Linked DNA regions of Homo sapiens: region 2 is linked to region 1. The links come from fine-mapping of genetic effects on gene expression. Tissue or cell type: gastroesophageal junction. Region 1 holds a variant in brackets; the other region holds the start of a gene. All regions are shown on one strand. Distances are from middle to middle.

Region 1 (10,194 bases):
AACAGAACAAGACTCCATCAAAAAAAAAAAGGGGGGGGGGGGCTAGTCAGATTTGGCCCACAGGCCGCAGTTTTCAACCTGTGGTCTAGGCCAACACTATCAAACGCAACAGTGCTATGCAACACAGTGTAGCTATCCAACACAGTGGTGCTATCCAACACAGCAGTGCTATCAAGGCAGTGGTGCTATCCAAACATGGTGGCGCCAACCCCCTGTGGCTGCTGAGCATTTGAAATGTGGTAAGTCCAATTGAGATGTGCTGAATAAGCATCAAAGACATTATGGATTTTGAAGACTTAGTAAAAAAAAGAAGAATATAAAATAGCTCAATGATTTTTCATATTACATGTTGAAATAATATTTTTGATATATTATGTTAAAATATATTATTAAAACTAATTCTTCTTACCTTTTACAATTTTATGTATGTATGTATGTATGTATGTATTTATTTATAAGAGACAAGGTCTCACTACGTTGCTGAGGCTGGAATGCAGTGGCTATACACAGGTGCAACTCCACTGCTGTTCAGTATAGGAGTTTTGACCTACTCTGTTTCTGACCTGGGCCAGTTCATCCCTCTTTAGGCAACCTGGTGGTTTTCTGTTCCCAGGGAGGTCACCATATTGATGCCAAACTTAGTGTGGACCCCAATCAGCATAGTGCACTATAGCCCAGAATGCCTGGACTGGAAAGATCCTCCCACTTTAGCCTCCCCAGTAAGTATTTGGGACTACAGGCAGATGCCACCATGCCCAGCTCTACTAACTTTTCAAATATGGTTACAAGAAACCTCAAAATTATATAAGTGGCTCACATTTTATTTCTATGGGACAGGACGAGTCTAGATAACTTCCCTGTTGGGCAGAAAGCCATCATCCTAAATGAACTCATTAATAAAAAGAAATTCATCTCTTCTGAATCTTCTCCTCCAACCCAGAATCTTCTCAGCAAGGTCTTCCATGGCCTGGGCAGCCAATAAAAGTTAAATTTCTCTGCCTCATTTAGTCACTCTCATATAATGCCTCATTTTCTTCACAGGTATTCTGAAATTGTTGTATTCGCTTCTTTCCTTACTTATTCTCCACCTGCCTGAACTAGTGTCAATTCCACAAGTGCAGGGCCCTTTCACATCCTCTTCACTGTGGCTCCACGTCAATTTGACTTTGGTGTTGGCTGGTGCCTTGCTTCTATTGGGCCAAAAACTATGCCAGACAGAGAGTAAGTGTTTAGCAAATATTTTGACTGAGAGAAAGCACTACAAACATAGAAAATACAGAAATGAAATGCTGTTGCAACTGAGATAAAATTTAAGTACAGGGATGAAGAAACCTTGTATTCTAATATTATTTGGCAACTTCAGAAACTGAAGCAAAGTGCTTGAGAGCAGGTTGATATTAGAACACAAGAGAAAACCACAAATCCACCCTCAGCCACTGGGCCCTGTAACTATGATCTTTAATAATAATATTAATAACAGCAGCAATAGCCAACATTAGTACTCTGTTGCATTTACTTTGTGCCTGGTACAGTTCTAGTGCCTCACATATATTAACTAATTTAATCTCTAAATAACCCTATAAATGAGACACTATTTCCCCCCTTTTACAAATTAAATAACTGGGGCACAGAAAGTAAAGTGACTTACCCAAGGTCACACAGTATCAAGCATCAGAGCCAGGATACAAACCCAGGCACTCTAACTCTCTTAACCACCTTACTATACCTTAAACCTCGACGATCTTCCCTGATTTTATTAGCTTTATCTTGTTGTGAGCATGCTAGATGAATATAACATAACGTGAATTAGAAATATAGATCTTTTAAAAATCTGTTTAAAATGTGAATGGCAGTATCATCATAACAATGGAGAAAGCTTCAGAATAAATGGAGAAAGAATCACTATTTTTCATGCTGTCTTAAGCGTCTACCCTCATGACAGGAAGAAAATGAGGTAAATGTTTTCTCTTAAGCTCTAAGCATATTTGTACATTTTAATCTCTCTCCTTGTATATTCATCAGAGCAATCTTTTGTTAGCTGTAAACTTGCTATGTAAATATATATAAAATATGTGCTATCTACAGATATTCTCTGCTGAAATGATGACAGTATTTGTTTTCAGTGACTAAACAGGGAACCCAAAGTGGATACTAAACTAGCAGCTGTTAGCGTGCATTTCAACAGGAGAAATGAGAGACTTGAGAGAGATGTATTTATTTGGCACCTCAGCCTGGAGTTGATAGCTGCCTTGTTCTTTGCCCCTGTCTTTTCCTGCTCAGTTTCGTTAACTTGATTTTCCTCTTTCTGCAGTGCCCAGCCCAACTATAGTCTGACATTATATCTGATCCTCAGCAGAAAGAATGTTTGAAACCACCTAACTCAAAAACTCTTTGATTCAATATCGACTTCTATTATCCATTGGTGTCCATTTTTCAAAGGCTATTTACTGAGCATTTTCTGTGCGCAAGGTTAAAACAACACCTAGCTTCCACAAACTACTTTCCTGGGAACCTATCCCTTTTTCCCTTCAATATCCCAGTTTTTGGATTTCTGGATTTCTAGTTTCTTCTGCCTGGTCTAAACAGACAGCCTAGGTGACCTCTCCAGGACTGATTCACCTGGCTGAAAGTAACCTTATGCCCGGTATTATCCCCCTTCTCTCTTACCAACGTTTGCTCTTGTTCCTTCTTATTCAAGCGCATTCCATTGCTGCTTCTCCTTCCCCTTCTCCCAAACCATTAGACACACCTGTCATTTGTGGCAGAAGTTAACCTACTCAACAAGTACTTCTGCCCATTGTTCTGAATGTTCAATAAATGACCCTGTGGCTCTCCCCAATGTACCAGGTTGTAAAACACCAGTGAAATAAAGCATAACACCAATTAGGATCATTTGAAGAGAAAAACATATGGCTTAGAGTCATCTGCTATATTTATTATTTTCTGCTTACTACAAAGTTTCCTACTTTAGGCCTGTGTCACAAAGTGAGTCCCAACAAACACTGATCCTAAGACAGATGTCATGAGGAAAAATGCTCCCCTCCAGAAAAAAAAGGTGGGTGGGAAAGCGTTCTGTGCAGAAAACCCTGTATTCTATGTCCCCTTCTTGTTTCACAAACAGGTTTGACACAAAGCCCTCCCTCGCCCTCTTTTTTTTGGGGGGGGGGGGTGCATAATAGCATCTAATTTATTACTGTAATGTTTCCCATTGGACCCACTTTAGGAAATGCAGCTTTAAGAAGACAAAGATGAACCAGATATTTTTTTCCACCTTCAAAGGACCTTTATCTTGGAATGGACCATGGAGAAAAATGAACAGCAGAAAATAAGAGTAAACAAAGCACAGGTGTATGTGTTTGTGTGTCTGAGCAGAGGGAAACTATAAGAATGGGCTGTTTGCTAAGTTTCATTGTAAGGTGACTGGCATCGTATTTTCCTTGGAATAATGATACATGGTTTTTTGTCCTAAATCTCTATGTGGTGTAGAACATATAAAGAAAGTCAGATAGCGGGGAACTTTTAAGAAGTTTTATGGTTGATAGAAAGATCCTTAATCCTCTTGTTTGTGCCACGCAGTTTCCTATAAGCTCCCCTCACCAACATCTTGTCCTTTCAACAGCCTCTAAAAAGAATTTCCACCTTCATCCCAAATTCTGGTTTCAGCTCTCGGTATATCTATATATATATATATTTGTAATATATATAGATATATAGTTGTGATGTTACCAAATGCCAGGGGTTCGGTCTAGGTCCCTTTGCTTGCTGCACGCAAAGCCAATTACTGAGACAACAGATATTAGCAGAGAAGAAGGTTTTATTCATGTGACATCAGCCAGAGAGACAGAAGACAAACCTCAAATCCATCCCTCTCCCACAGACTAAAGTTAGGGGTTTATATAGCAGGGAACTGAGGAAGGGTAAGAAAAGGGAGTTGGACAACAGGCAGTAGGTGCATCTCATTTCCCAGGGGCAGTGACCTATCAATAGAAAGCCTCAGCTCTCTGATATTTGCCAGAAGGCCTGATGATCAGTTCCCTGAGAAAGGAACTGAGATAAGACATCAGTAAGTTAAAACTGGATCCATTTCAGTAACACTACGTACTTGTTTTGCAACCTATCCTCTCACACACTTGATTTACCTTAAGTCCAAAAGGGACCTAAAAAGACCATCCTATATTTTTCAGATCTAAATATGCTCAGCATATTTGCATGACTAGCATCATGTTTAAACAGCTAACTCATGGCAATTGAAGGAATAGAATCAAGGTATAGGGACTCACCACCACAGACTCATCAGCCATTCTCTTTCCTTGGCCAACCCATTGAGAATTTCCTCAAAGATGATAGGCTCATTCTTTGTAAAGACTTCATTTGTTACACCCTTGTTACTCTCAGCCACATTCTGGAAACTAAG[AAGG/G]ACTGTTCAGCAGCCAAAGGCTAATATGATAACACTTGAAAAGAAACCCCAGTGAGTTACTAATGGGAATATTTATTTGTGAGTCGGGATCTGACCACCTTTTCAGAATCATTACTGATCCCCTCATCTTCAGCATTCATGTGCCCCTATATTAGGTTGGTGCAAAAGTAATTGCGGTTTTGCCATTAAACGCAGTGGCAAAAACTGCAAATACTATTGCACCAACCAAATAAAACAGCAATGCCAAGTTCACCAAGAGCTAAATGAAAACATATTGATAGTCTGTTTCACACTTTTTTCAAAAATATTCTAAGTTAAAGATTCTGTATTAAGGGTGAAGGATTTCATGAATTTAATGGCTAACAATTTATCCTTAAATGTGCTATCATTGAAAAAAATGACTGATAATGATTAATATATTCTCACATGACCTACAGAGAGGCTTTGTTTTTAAACATCTCTATGTAAAACTAAAATCTTTAAGAAAAAAATGAAGTTAAATAGGAAAGCAAAGTTAAAAAGAGGGATTAAAATGGACTTGAAAGAAAACACTCTTCATTCCTTCACCTCTGTCCCTCCTAGATAATTCTTTGGCCCCTTTAGACTCCCATAAGAAGGATTTCCATCTTCATCCCAAAGCTTGACACCACCAAGTCCAGGTATATATATGGTTGTCATTTTTAAGCTGTAAGGTGCTAATATACCTGACACATTGTGGACAAGAGAATTTACTGAGAAAAAAATGAATGAATATTAATATTTTATTTTCTTTTTTACTTCCACATTTTCTTCTTTTATCTACCCTAGAGCAATGCTAGGTGCTGCTCAAAAGGGGTGCCTAGATGATTTGATAACATTTCCCACTGAACATCTCTGCTGCTCAGTCCTTGTATTCCCAGTCTTTTGTTATTAAATACTTGTTACCTTCTACAACTCTTTCAAATGTGGGAATGAGAAGGAATCATGCAGTAGAGACAGATAACAGAGGAAGGTGAGCTGTATACAGAAAGCAAAATTCACAAAAAGATGAATGCTAAAATGGCAAAGAAACATTCTTATGCTTTTCCTTGTGCCTCATTGTCCATGCCTCTACTCCCTCTTATCTTCCAAATTTCTTGACATTTCTACCCTTGAGCTGAAGGAATACAAATCCATTTTGCTAACATTCTTCACACAATTGAATTCTCAAAGCTATACCTCTCCTGACACAGGTAGTAATGAATCTCCAAGAAAGTATAAGAAATATTAATAGTTGCAGAGAAAGCCAGAGGAAATGCCAGGGTCTGCTTGCTCTTTCATCAAAAGTAGCCCCATTAGAATGAGGCAGTCATGCCAATAGTGAATTATTAGATCTTTTTCTTAGAGCTGTCAGATGATACACTGTTGTCATGACCACTATAATTAAAACACTGTTTACTGAGTTTCTCTGAAGTGCAAAAGCATTATGATTGGCTCTAGAGTATTATAAGATTATAAGAAATATATGCTGACTGCCTTCAAAGGCCTACAATCTATTTGAGGATCCACCGTGTGTGTGTGTGTGTGTGTGTGTGTGTGTGTGTGTATACATATGTCTATGTACATGCACAACACACACACACACATGCACACACACACACACTTATATACAGTCGTCCTTCTGTATCCTTGGGGATTGGCTCCAGGAACTCCAGAGGACACTCCTGATATAAAATGGCATAGTATTTGCATATAACCTACACACATCCTACTGTGCTCTTTAAATCATCTCTAGATTATACACAATACCTAATACAATGTAAACGCTATGTAAATAGTTGTCATACTGTATTGTATGGGTAATAATGACATGACAAAAGTCTGTATGTGTTCAGTAGGGACACATTTTTTTTTTAATATTTTCAATCCACAACTGGTTGACTTCACTGGGAAGTCTGGAATTAGAAAATTAAATTAGGAAGATTAACTGCTAAAATACTGTAATTAGCTATCATTAAAATGGCATAACACTGACAGAAAACATTGAACAAAAGAAAATGTACACATTAAAAATAAGAAGTAAAAGAACTTTCAGGAAAGGAACTCTGTATTGTTTACCTATCTTTAATTTTGTATATACTCTTCAAATTTTAAAAAAAGTTAAAACTCCAAACAGCATATGCTAAATACAAAATGAGTTTTATGTGAGCAACTAATTAGTTGCTCAACTTTTGAATGAGCAACTAATACAAAAGTTCAGAGGAGAAAGCAATCTGGAATTATTCTGGGTTCTTTTCAAAGTAAGCTAAGTACACAAAATTTCTATCCTCAAGGAGCTCGAAATCAGTATGAATTATGTTACAAAGAGTAAAACTTACCCACTGTGAAACAAGTGCATGGAATGAGAAAATCTTCTGAATTAATAAAATTCACATTACTCATGGTCTTTTGAAATAACTGTCTTAACATTTTCATAAACTGGAAGCTTCCAAAATATTTCTCACGTAGTAGTCCTGCTTATGTTTTATTGAGTAGTTAAAAGTTATTTGCCATTAGATGATTATTAATATGTAACAAAATGCCATTAAACTTTAAGAAGTTTTGGAGGATTGAGTATTTTCTTTTTCCCAAAGAGGTCCAACATCACCCCTGGCTTCTTTTTGCACAATAAAATTGAATGCTATATTTTTGGCAGTGCCCAAGGATAGTGCAAAATTACAGAGGGTCCACCACGAACTCTAAATTAACAAGTCTAGAGCCTTGAGGCTGGCAAAAAGTGACTTCTGCTGTCAGCTCTCTCTAGGCTTCTCTCTGTCTCAGGTGCAGGAGTTGGTATAGAACAGGGTAGAAGTGTTTAATTTGGAAACTATCTACTCCATTGCAAGTTTACCTTACGAGTTTCACAAACGAGCTATTTGGCATTTCAAGGAACTTCGCAATAAGAGGGCAGACTAAAATGATAAGTTTCATTCAGGCAAAGAGGACACAACCTGAAAAATGAAACGTTGGTCAAGACTCCTGATTACAAGTGACATAAACCCAGTTAAAACCACCTGGTCAAAAAGAGAGTTGGTTCACATACTGCAAAGTCCAGGGGAGGATCTGGTTTCAGGGGCTCCTCCATGTCATCAAAAATCTGCATCCCCTTCCCCCACTGCCCTTCTCTTTCTTGCTCCTGTTCTTATGGCTATTTCTCCCTATGAGTTACCCTCGTTCTCTCGGGCTGTAGCCTGAGGATGAAGTAGATAAGAGTTTAGCGTAGTAGAATAGAATTTGAAGAAACTGTGGCACACCCAGATATACGACTGATAAGGTTTGGATCTGTGGCTCTGCACAAATCTCATGTCAAACTGTAATCTCCGGTGCTGGAGGTGGGGCCTGGTGGAAGGTGATTGGATCACGGGGGCAGTTTCTAATGGTTTAGCACCATCCGCCTGGTGTTGTTCTTGTGACAGAGTTCTCACAAGAGCTGGTTGTTTAAAAGTGTACAGCACTTCCCCCATCTCTCTTTTGCTCTTGCTGTGCCATATAAGATGTGCCTGTTTGCCTTCCACTTTCCACCATGATTGGAAGCTTCCCGGGGCCTCCCCAGAAGCAGAAGCCATTATGCTTCCTTTACAACCCACAGAAATGTGAGCCAATGAACCCTCTTTTCTTTGTAAATTACCCAGTCTCAGGCATTTCATTATAGCAGTGCGAGAACAAACTAATACAGTGACGTCAGTCACCAATTACATCTGTGAATGTAGAACTCAGGAGAAAAACATGAACTAATAATTTTCATAAAGCACCATGTAATAATAACAATGCTTTTCGACCGTTGCCTAAATTCTAGGCACTTTACTAAGCAGTAAAACTCATTGAACTTTCAACATCCTGTGAGGTAATCTCAGAGGTTTAAATGAACTGCTTAAATTCTCACAACTACTAGGCCGTGGAGCTGCCAGATTCTAACCCGAGGGTATGACTCCTGTTCTGGACACTGTGGGAGCTGGCTGAAGCTTTGTCTGCTGAGGACTCACAACTGACCTTTCCTGGAATTTCCCTCCACAAAGGGAGCTCCCTCACCCAAAGTCAGGCCCCATTGATAAGAAGTGGTTCCAGAGCCTAACCGCTTTGCCTCAGTTTGGAAGAGTACAACAAAGCTCTCATGGGGTCTTCTGAGGCCTCTGTTCCAACTCTATCCCCATTAAACTTCTTCCCCTGCCTAATTCTAATTCCTCCAATTTTTTTACATGTGCTGTCCCTAGGCTTACCCTCTGATAAAACTCATATACACAAAACTCCATCTCAGAGTCCATTTCCAGGGAATCAACCTCAGACAGGTTCAAAGCCTGTGCTGTTCAAACCTTTCTCATAAGCAACCTCTTCAAGTCAAGTGCGTTGGCTTTGCCTGCTTCACTCCGAAAAAATATTACAAAATGAATCATGAAGTTTTAAAAATGAGCAATTTCCAAAGAGAGGACAAAAAATGTTCCCATGACATATTCAGAAAACCTGCATAATTTTATGTGAATTGTGGACCCAGTCAACAATCTTCCCAGGTAAATACTGTATATTCTCTGTTACAAAGCTGAGAAGAAGGCCTTCATCATATTGGTTTACTCTTTTCTGTCTCCCCAGCAAAATAAACTGTTTGATAAACAGCCTGAATTTATCAGCTTCTCCTTTACAAAGTTTTACAAAACCCAGCCTGCCTTCACATCAGAAAGTGTTTTGATACAAACTATTTCCTTTGAGAGTAACTATGGAGTCCTGCAATCTCAGGTCACTGGGGATTTGTTAATATTCATTGAGTCCCCATGATTTGTCACAAGATCACAAAATTGCCAATGCCCCATCTTAAACTGAATTGCAACAGAAATCACATAAGAATGACAAAAAACAAAGAGCAATTTGTTCACCTAGTTCTTGAAGGGCAATTCAAGTTCATTTGGTCCTTTTAGAATTTTCAGAAAATAGTCTTTTTTTCTTCCCTCTCAGTTTTTTCAATATGAAATTCTGGCCTCCAAGTTATGATTTCTGGAGTTCCAGAAAAGGCCCATGCTCTTTCAAATATCTCCCTTCACTGACTTAAGAGTATTTGCAATTCCACCATTAGAGATTCTTTTTTTAACGTCAGTCAAAGGTCTCCAAGGAAATAGAAACTCTTTAAGCCATCGAAGTCCAGCAGTTTAGTTTGAGTATGACTGAGTTTATCAGCAACTTTCTAAGCAGGGGATTTTGATTACTAAGTCCTTGAGTAGAAGGACAGGGTGGGAAACCAGCATTGGTAGAAGAGTTATTTGTTCAGGATACTTTACAAACATCATCTCATTTGATTCCCAAGTAATCCTGTATTATTCCATCTTTACTGGGGAGGAAACTGAGTTTTAGAAAAATAGGTAGATTGCCCAACATCACATAACTAGACACTCCGGATGTGGGCCTACCTAACATAACAGTCATCTACCCTAAAAACACTGGGCTGATAAGGGTTAAGAAGAAATAGAAACTAAGATACAAAACAAATGCTTGACCTCATGAGTATCATCAGGCTAGGCTCTGGGGCTGAAGGCAACACTGGGCTACACAAAGCATGACCTGAAGCAGAAGGGGGCCTTGAGGTAAAAGGATCCTTCCCAACAGATAGATATAGTTCTCATGTACTTTATTGTAGAATGGCCACCACCTCTGTAAACAAGGTCAGGAACATCTATAAACTCATTGCAACCTCAGATGGCAGAGATAGTCCACTCTGGATTGCAGATACTTGACCATTTGACATATCAATCTTACCAACAGTTTCTACAGCCCACCCTCAGACAGAATGAGGTTGC
Region 2 (10,194 bases), 120 kb before region 1:
ATGCTCTCATACATAATGAATCTTTTCTTTTTTCTCTTGCTGCTTTCAAGGTTTTTTATTTGTGTTTTGCTTTTAATAGTTTTACTGTAATGTGCAAGCATGTAAATCTATTTGCTTGATTCTTCTTAGAGTTTGTTGACCATCATGAATGTGTAGATTAATATTCAACAAACTTCAGAAGTTTGGGGCCACTATTTCTTTGACTGTTTTTCTGCTCCTTTTTCTCTCTCCTTCTGGCCCTCTTATTATGAATATGTTAATGCATTTAACAATGTACCACATTTCTCTGAGGCTCTGTTGATTTTTTTACTTCATTCTATTTTCTCTGTTTTTCATGTTGCATAATATCTTCCAATCTATCTTCAAGTTCAGTGATTCTTTCTTCTGCCAGCTTCTATGAGTACAGCTCTACTGTTGAACCCCTCTAGTGAATTTTTAATTTCATTTATTGTACTTTTCAACTTCAGAATTTTCATCTGGTTCTTTTTTAAAAAATAATTTCTAACTCTTCATTGATATTCTCAATTTTATGAGACATTTTAAATCATATCTATCTTTAATTCTTTGTTCTTTGATTTTCTTTAATTCTTTTAACCTAGTTATAATAGCTGTTTTGAAATATTCAAATTCTAAATACAACACCTGGACTGTTTCTACTTTTTTTTTTTTTTTTTTTACCAGATGTTGTCTGACTTTCCCTGCATGCGCAGCCTCTGTTGCCATTCCTCAGAAGGTGCATCATTGGGTAGATGCAGTCTTTCTTATCCTCTCCCATTTCCAAGGGATAATAATCATTTTAGTAGTGTTCACTTTGACTGTTTCTTTCCACTATCTCACTGTTAAGTGATTGTTCTGCCTGTGTTGGTATCACACCCAGATTTTGGCCTTCTTAATTGTTTGCTGAATTGTTGCTCTATGGTTTTCAATAATACCCTGAGGTATGAATTGACCAACAATCTGATCCAATTAAATTTGTCTGCTTCAGCTACTATAACAACATACCACAGACTGTGTGGCTTAAACAACAAAAATGTATTTTCTCACAGCTCCAGAGGATGGAAGTCCATAATCAAGCTGCTAGCAAATTCACTGGTGAGGGTTCTCTTTCTGGCTAATAGATGCTTGCCTTTTCGTTACTTCCTCGCGTGGTCTTTCCTTAGTGTGTGCACCCAAAAAGAGAGAGAGAGTGAGCTATCTGGAGTCTCTTCTTATAAGAACATTAATTCTGTCAGATCAGGACCCCACTCTTATAACCCCAATTAACCTTAATTACTTCCTTAGAGGCCCTATCTCCAAATACAGCCACACTGGCATTTGTGCTTCAACATATAATTGTGGGGGACATAAACATTCAATCTATAACAGGCTTCTTTATAGGGGTAATATTTGAGGCCAAATTTTGTGGCTAGTGCCAAATCCAAGAGGGCATTTTTTACCTCTTTTTCTGCCTGTCTTTGCTTAACTTCTAGCTGGTCTGCCACTATCTTGTTGCTATCATGAAGCAACAAGCCTACTCTTAATTGTCCACCAGAAGAATCTTCATTGTTTTCAACAGTGTCCCTATGCTTGAAATACCCTATGCTGTCTTACAAATAAAATTCCAGCTTATGTATCATCAGTCTTCTAAGGGAAAGATACATAGCCCTCTATTCTTATGGCCTGCCTCTCCTATGAGTAGTACCTTTACACCACTGCACCAGAGCTGGCAGAAGAGACAGTGACCTACTTCTCCTGGAGCAATACTCTTGCTCCACAAGTGGAGCACTGAATACGGATCGTAGTCCCTAGTCTTTTTTGCTTATGCCTCCTGGAATACATCCTATACACTATGAGTGATCCAGGGCAGGGATATTCAGGACCTTGCTGCTCCTGGGCTAGAGATTATACCCTATGAGAGGAGGCTGGGTAGAGGAAGGAAACCATAGTCCTCTTGGTCCTGTCTACAATGAATAGAATTTCTGCAACCTGAAGCTGGGACAATAAGAGATTCCAACAGCCTTTTGCTCTAGGGGTGAACTATGATCTTTAACTGGAAGCTGGGAGGAGAGGGAGCCCAGTCTTTTGGCTACATCCACTCAGAGTTGAGCTCTCATCATACTGAGCTTGGGAAGAACAGAGGTTAATGGAGCAGATCTTGGCTCAAATGCCATAGACGCTCACTTCTTACTGAGATTTAGATTTTCTTGAATAAATAATTATTAATTTTCTGCATGCCCTTAAGACAACTTCCAGAGATTTTCATTTCTTTTTTATAATTTTTAGCAGTTAAATAGTTGTTGTAAAGGTTCTAGCAGTTTACCTCTACCATCTATTCCTGCCCTTACTTCCTCTGCACTTCTTCAACATATGGCTTGGGGAAAAGAGAAACTTGATCCCTTCCACCTAGCACCAAGAAAAACATTGATTGTTTTTCGTGTTGTAGTTCAACTTTACACGACTTTTTTTTTTCTTTTTCTTTTTTTTTTTTTTTTTTTTGCTACAATGAACCCAAAGCCCAGAGAATCCCACCAATGAAACAGATTTGGAGAGAATGGAGAGGGTAAAAAAATATGGTTCATGGCACCTACTGGGTCCAATATTACTACTTCCTGTGGTAAAATGCCTGTAAAGATTACCTCCAGCAATTCCTGTCATCCAATATGCACATGCAATCAAGAGATAGAATCTATTGCCTCACCCATGGAATCTGAGACTTGGGACTTGCTTTAACCCATAAATTGTGATAAAAATGATACTGTGCCAGTTCTGGGCTTAAGCTATCTGAGAATGGTCAGCTTCCACTATTGCTCTCTTGCTACTCTGGACTGTCACATAAGGAATTCCAGGCTAACCAGATAAAGTGAGACATCATACAGGGAGAGAAGCCATGGGAAGAAGAATTAAGACCCCCGCCCCAGGCAAAAGCCAACACAAAGATCTCAGTCATGTGAGTGAAGCCATCTTAAACCTTCTAGCCTAGCCCAGATACCAGCAGAATGCAGCCTTCTATTCCAACTAATTCACATGGAATGCTGCCCAAATCCTGACCCAGAGAATCGTAATAAAATAGTTGTTGTTTAAGCCACTACATCTTGGGGTAGTTTGTTGCACAGCCATAGATAAATGGAACACTCCATTTGTGGAATTAGATAATAAAGTTTTCTTCAGAGTAAGTTTCTTAACAGCCAGTAACCATTTAAATAGAAAGCTGATAATAGAAAGTAGAAAGAAAAAGAGGTAGAAGGAGAAAAGAGGAGGAATATCAGGGGATAAAGTTATCCACAACTAATAGAGACAGAACAAAATAAATGAGATAGATTGGTAGAGGTGGGGGAAGAAGTGAGTAAGTGAGGGAATTCAGGGACATGTGACCTAAGGAGGAGATAGATTAAGGATTCAGGAGCCCACATGGTGCATGTATGGGTACAGGAGATGTAGACGGAGAAGGGGAACACTAAATTAACAAGAAGGGGGCCTGGGTCCACAGCCCAGTTCTGTTGTAATTAGCCATCTGCCCTCAAGAAACACATTTATTCTGACCTCAAGAAAGGCATTTGTTCTATCTGGCATTCAGTTTCCTACATGGTAAAATGAGGGATCGAGATAAATAATCTCTTCCAGATTTAATTTATTTCCCTTGACAAGAAAATACAAATGAGTTTGACAATTCTTATAAACACTGTGTCCTGAAAACCATACCTATTTATGGGGTGAATGAGACTTTGTAACTATAAGTGGTTGGCTTATTTGTGCAACAAAATGCTAATAGTCTATGTTAATAAGAAGGGAAATATTGTTATTTCAGTAATGTGGAGATGCTCTATTGATAGTATCCATAGGGTTAACAATTTTTTGTCCAAAACTTCTGCCTGACTTACCACAAGGCTTTGTTTTTTATGTTAATAACCTCAATACATCATATCTAATATTATTTTCTAAGAAAAATAATTCTTCTAATGTGAGATTGCTAGATTCTTTGTTTTAAGCCAAGTTATAAATATCCTTTTTATAAAATCTCTTTGCTGTTACTAAAATATTTGATGCTCCCAAACATAGTATCACTACTCCTTAGAATATTAGTTTGGCTTTGTGAAACAAACAAGAACATTACACGTATTATTAATGGGCAAGTATTCTCTTAAATTCTTCTTCTAACATCAATTCTTTTCAGATTTTCATTAGCTCATTTATATTCACTGAATGTGTTCCTTTTTTGAACCCCATTCAGATTCAACTCCTCAAACAAACCAAGCTCACATTCTTATGTATGTGAAAGTATATTTACTGTGCAATTATCGAAGTCTGGGAAACTTTCCTTAAAACTATTTTCTATGTAGGTTATCCCTAACCCTACTTTAATTCCTTTTTATTTTTAGCTCTTAGCCTATTACTTCTGAGAAAGCTTCCTCTGATTCCAAAGTCCAGTTATTCTTATTGAACACCCTCAATATGACACAAATACACTGTTTTGTAATTGCCTAGTTCTAATATGTATTTCACATTAGACTAAGTTTCAAGAGGACAAAGATCTGAAACTAGACATTTTTTTCTTTCTCATTATAAGTTCTGCACTTACTACAGGTGTGTTCAATCAATAATTGTTAACCAAGTGAAAAATGAATGAATGTATTGCATGTGACACTGTGGGAGACATTAAAAAGAAATGGAATACTTTGTAGAACATTAAAATCAGCTATATTTGTTATAGGTATGTATATTAATAATGATACTTTATAAGCATGAAAACAACAGCTCATTTTAAGATCAATACAACCACAATTTTGCCATGTAGCTGAAGTCTTAACTTTTTCTAAATATAATATAATAAAATTTACTATCTATCTTAAAATTGAGAATAATTGAGAAAAGGAAAAGTAAACAGATTATATAGGTCTATTTTCTGGAATAAACATGACAGATGAAAAACACATCAGTAAAATGTGTTCTTTATGCACTTAGGATATTTAAGGAATCAAATCAACTATATAAAGTATTGCATTTTTCAGAATATAAAATACATGTCAGTCAACAACTTATAAAATGTTCCAGAGTGCCCCCAAGTTGCAGAGTAAAGGCCTACAATTCAGAAGCAACAAGGTATAGGAATTGGATGATATTCAACAGAGAAAATTGTGAAGCAGACACAGACATCTATTACCTTTCTAGTGTGAAAGCATACATCTTGGCAGCTTTATCATTCACAAGATACGTTCTTTCAAGAAACTCCATGACGGCCAGGATGAGCTGCGGCTGTTGTTGTCGTTGTTGTTGAACTCACTGCCCAGTTTTGGAAGCAAAGCAGCACTGCAATTATTTATACACTTTCTAAAGAAAAAATTAAAAGGCTCCAGAAATTAAAATAATGAGCTTCCTACATCAGTGTTGTTGGTAGGTCTGCTAAAATTACAGCCTCCTTGCAATATTACCTGGCTTCATTGTTTTCACCTACAAAAACTGCTTTTCTAGGGAGACTTGCAGGTAGCATTACATGAAGTGTGTATGTCTTTCATATGATATCTGATTCAATTGTGCTTTCTAAGAGGTAGAGGAGCTCAAGAGCTTGCTACAAATTGCTGATGTAGGGTTTTGACCTTCGGAGCACACGTGGGTGAGCTGCAAATAGCTACCATTCGCTACACTAAACTAATTCTTTCTTTTTCTCTCCCTCCTCCTTTTTCTGGACTCTTTATCAGCCTAAAATTATTTCTTTGGAATTTAGTTCTAAGATGACCTCTAAGCAGCTGTCAGAATTTACTTGTCTCTCCTAGGACCATTTTGGGATTTCACTATTGAAAGGGAGGACAAGGGTCAATAGTTTCTGAAACCAGTAATCTGAAAACAGTTCTTGGTACAGCAGCTTTGAAATCCTTTTGATTGGCAAGAGAAGGACAGACTCTGCTTCTACGTAAATAACAGCCCTCCAAAATACAAGAACCAGAGTGAGCTTTGTTCTTCCTGGCCAAGGTACCCTCTACTAAGGATCAAGGATTCACCCAAGGAAACCCTATCAGGCATGCCAGTTCCAGCTCCGAGGAAGGAAGCCTCTGAGTTGCTCCTGGGAGACCTCACACTCCTCAACTCCTAGGAATCAGCATTTTACTTCATACAAAGCACTTTCCTTCCCAAATAAGAGAAAGAACTATAGCCTTATGGCAAGAGCCTGGACAAACAGTAGGCATTTGTGTGTGGGCAAAAGGTTTCAAGACCTATAAAGATGTACACAACGGTAGAGAAAGAGGGGGTTGTGCAGACTGGAGAACAGGAGTAAACCCCAGACCACCAGGTTCTTGTTGCCTTTTCCTTGTGTGAACACTAACTTTCTAGTGAGAAAACTCAGAGTAGTTAAGTCCCAGAATAACCCAGTGGCCCAGAGTCACGGGAAGTTGCCCATTATGCTGAGCTGAGATCTCTCACAATGGCCTAATAAAATGAATATTGTGCTCTAAAAGGAGGATGGGGTTCAATGCCAATTGTCATAGGCAGTGACAGGAGAAGTCACCTTTGGTTCAGAATGAGACTATTAGGTCTCCTATCACATCTGTGGTGTAGCTGTACCTCTTATTATCTTAAGATTTCAAACACTCTCATCTATAACATAAATTCTAAGGTCTTCTCATATGACCCCACTCTTACTGATCCTTAACTTTGCTCACACAGTTTGGAGCCTCTAAGAGGCTCTGGGGGAGCCTTTTCCTTGCAAGTGAAGGCATTGAAATCCTGGGTCTACTGTTAGCAGAATAAAAACCAATGTATTTTTTCTCGTATATTCTTACTCTTAACCTTACAAAGTAATCAGTTATTCTGTGGAGGCGAAAGTAGAAAACCAGAAAAGAATTACTAATCCACCTGTGTGACACACTGCCATATGTCACAGCTTGAATCATTTGTGAATAGTTTCTAGCACAGACAAGAGAAATAGAATTCAAGTGAATGAATGTCAGAAAATGAGGAAACTACTTTAAATCAGCCTGAAATTCATTAAGGGTGAGTACAAAAAAAAGAGATAAGCAATATTTTCAAATCAGGAAGGAGAATATTTGGCTATAGATATCAACAGGAAATAAACAATCTGGAAGTTTGAGATTCCTCCATGCGAACTTTGCCTCTAGTACAAATACGGATGTACAGATCTATTTATAATTGACATACATACATACATAATTGACATATAATTTATAATGAGTGTGAAGGATACATGCCAGGTAGTTAATGTGGATTGCCTATGGGGCAAGAATAAAGTGAGAGTAGGATGGGGTTGATGTAGGACAGGGAAAAGTGAAGATGGGAAAAGAGACAATGAGAGACCCAAGCAAAACAACAAAAAATACTGCTACCCCCTGTCAAAAATGTATCCTATGATCTCTTCTATTTGTCTATAAGATAAACTATATAAGTCCTATGTGGTCTAATATCAGCAATTTTATATGGTTCAACTTAAATATACATGCACACATATATAGATACCTAAAATATATGTGTGGATATGTATGTTACATTTACTAATAAAAATGTACATATTTATAAAGTACTAGGAAATTAATTATGATTTTCATCAAAGATTTATGAATCCCAAAAGTTACTCTTGAAGATGATTACCATAAAGCAAAGCTTCCAGTGTGAGTAGCATAAGAACAGAGAACAGTAGATTACAGCAAATAAAATTATGCTTAAAAAGTTTTGCTGCCATAAATTTAGATGCAGATGTTATGATCAAGAATTGCATATTATATCATGTAAAATATGCATCTGCTGATCACCTTATTCTCTTACAAGTTCATTTTAACTGCACCGTCATTCCCTCTCTCAAATATTTTGTCATCACAACATTTATGAAAAATCTCTCATCCTCCCTGACAAACCTTTGGTCTACTTTGGCATGAACTGCCCACCAAGGGCCAACGGCCTAACTGGGCTCCACAAGCAGCATAGAATATATATTTGGAAAGCAACTTGGATCAAAAAGGAAAATCCCATCCCCTGTAGACATTGGTTTTAGTGGGCATTACGCTGCTCATTTCAGTTTCCTAGGCAACCAGCTTCCAAACCATCCCGAATTACAGGTTGTCTTCTCCGCCCACTCTCCTTCACAAGCTTGGAGTAACTGAATGGGAAACACACAATCTATAACAGCTACCTGTGGAAATAAGTATTCTGTCAGCCACAAGAACATCACCAACATCACTGAAGAACTGGTTTGGCTCTTCAGTCCTAGCTGTTGTCAGCAACAATTTCTTAATAGGGTGTTACAAACAGTAGCTAATACTTGTGCAAAAATAATTTCACAAGTATCTTAAACATTGTTGGATATTTCACTTGTAGAAAGGACATATGGATTTATAAAAAGCTACCATCATTATCCCTAGATACTAAAGTACCAAGTACTTACAATTTGTGTTCCCCATATTTAAACTCGTATTTCAGAAATACTTCATGTTGCCAATGTGTGCATGCAACCATCTTTTTAAATCAGACATAGAAATGTGCCTGTTTTTAAATAACAAATGTGGACTTTCATCATGTTTTGCTTTTTCCTGTTGGTGTGGAGAGGTAGTGTGGTGAAGTGGTTTAATATATGGGTTTTCAAGTTAGTTAGGTAGACAATTTTAGTTTCCAGTTTGACCACTTTCTTAGATATGTGACCTTGAACAAGTTGCCTGACCACTGTGTTTTTCCGTTTCTCACCTGTAAAATGGGAGTATTAATCGAATCCATCTTACAGAGTTCTTGTGAAGAGGAAAACAGATAATATGTATAAAAGTTCTTAGCATAGTCTCTGATATATAACCAGTTTTATGTAACTGTGAGTTTCTATACACTGGGCCATGTCTAAGTAAAATGTTTTGGCTATTGCTGAGAAATTGGCTCCAGCTTTAGCAGAAGGCTAAGAATTACCTGTGAATGAAGCATCCATCAAGGAAATAAAGGTTATTGAAAAAGGAAGATCTGGGGACTTCAGCTATCGGCTCTATGACTTTGGGTAGATCTCTCAAACCCTCTGGACTCTACTTTCTCAAATTAGATTGATGTCTGCCTCATTCTACCCCCTCACCAGTAGAGTGCCATTCAGAATGATCTTCACTATGGAGCTGTCTTCCACAACAGGGGAGGCAATTCAAACTCAACCAGTGTAATCACCCACTAAAGATTCTGGACTCATGCATTCTCACATAACTATAAAGATCTTATTATTTCTAAGTTGAGTAGTATTTTCTTAGCAAGGTAGCTTTATGGTTATTACTACAGTGTGAGTATTTCAGAGGTTTCATCTAGAAATGTGAAAACAAAGACATTAGAAATTTAATTGGATTGTATTTTAGAGAGCATTATGAAAATTTTATTTTAATCTAAAGTAAATATGTATAAAACACAAACCATTTCCAATATTTTATACACTGCTTGAAAATGGACCGAAAGCAATATGATGTTTATTTCCTTCTTGATAAATTAGGACCATGTAATTTTTTTTACTATTTCTATTTTTCAAGCGATTGAGCTATAGGAATGTTCTGGTGAAAATGCAATTTGTATTTGTTAAGAATAGAAAGACTTGATAAAATATTGATACTAAAAGAATAAAAGAAATATTTTATTAAGTCTCATAGATGCAAATAAATGACAGAAAAATGAACTAGCATTATTTTTGGGGGGAGAAATATTGGGGCTAGCTGCTTGAAGTGTTTATGAAGTGTATATTTCTTCAATTCTTCTCCATATACCACACTTCTTTTTCCAAGCACTTGCAAATTTGAACTAATTAACCCTCAAAAACGCCCTCTAGGTGAGATATGGTTGTTATTTCTTACAAACTCCAAAACAATGGCCTTTTGGCTTCATAATCTCACAACTATATGTCTTTTTATTTATATAAAAAGGCAAGAGAGGATTACAAAGAACCTATCCATTATTTTAAAGATTAGAATAGAAAAGTAGACAAAAATATACTTTCTAATATTCCAACCCCTTGGTCTATAAATGCACAGAGCATCACTGAAGACTAAAACATTAAATGCTCAAATTTAATAATAATAATAATAATAGAGCCCTCTTGTCATTATCTGGAATGCCACCATTTAATTTTCATGAGCACTGTTTATTTTCCTTCAGTGAAAGGTTTTAGGGGATCATAATTCATCTTTGGGAAATGGATTTTCACAGAGCATTCCCAGATGAATACCAACAGAGCAAAGGCAAAGCTCATCGTCTCCTCTGAATCTC

Alleles and levels. Alleles are on the strand shown, and positions count from the first base shown. SD is a standard deviation of normalised expression in the study named.
In carriers of allele G in region 1, the expression in gastroesophageal junction of the gene that starts at base 5,541 in region 2 tends to be lower than with AAGG alone (small effect, 0.31 SD a copy in GTEx).

The links. PIP is the estimated chance that this variant, and not a neighbour inherited with it, causes the effect.
Region 2: it holds the start of SLC30A8, and the variant in region 1 is the best candidate, but not a certain one, in a credible set for the expression of SLC30A8 in gastroesophageal junction (GTEx, PIP 0.67).

Annotation. Positions count from the first base shown.
Region 1 is chr8:117,008,512-117,018,705 of GRCh38, reverse strand. It overlaps a transcript of SLC30A8 not described here and the pseudogene RN7SL228P. Among named protein-coding and RNA genes, the nearest start is that of AARD, 75 kb to the right of the region's middle. The variant AAGG/G (reference allele first, on the strand shown) is at 4,415.
Region 2 is chr8:117,130,342-117,140,535 of GRCh38, reverse strand. It overlaps SLC30A8 (solute carrier family 30 member 8), which reads right to left and starts at 5,541. Exons shown (of 8, transcript NM_173851.3): 1 at 5,138-5,541. The coding sequence starts at 5,208. All of the region lies in intron 6 of LOC105375716 (a long non-coding RNA gene), which reads left to right.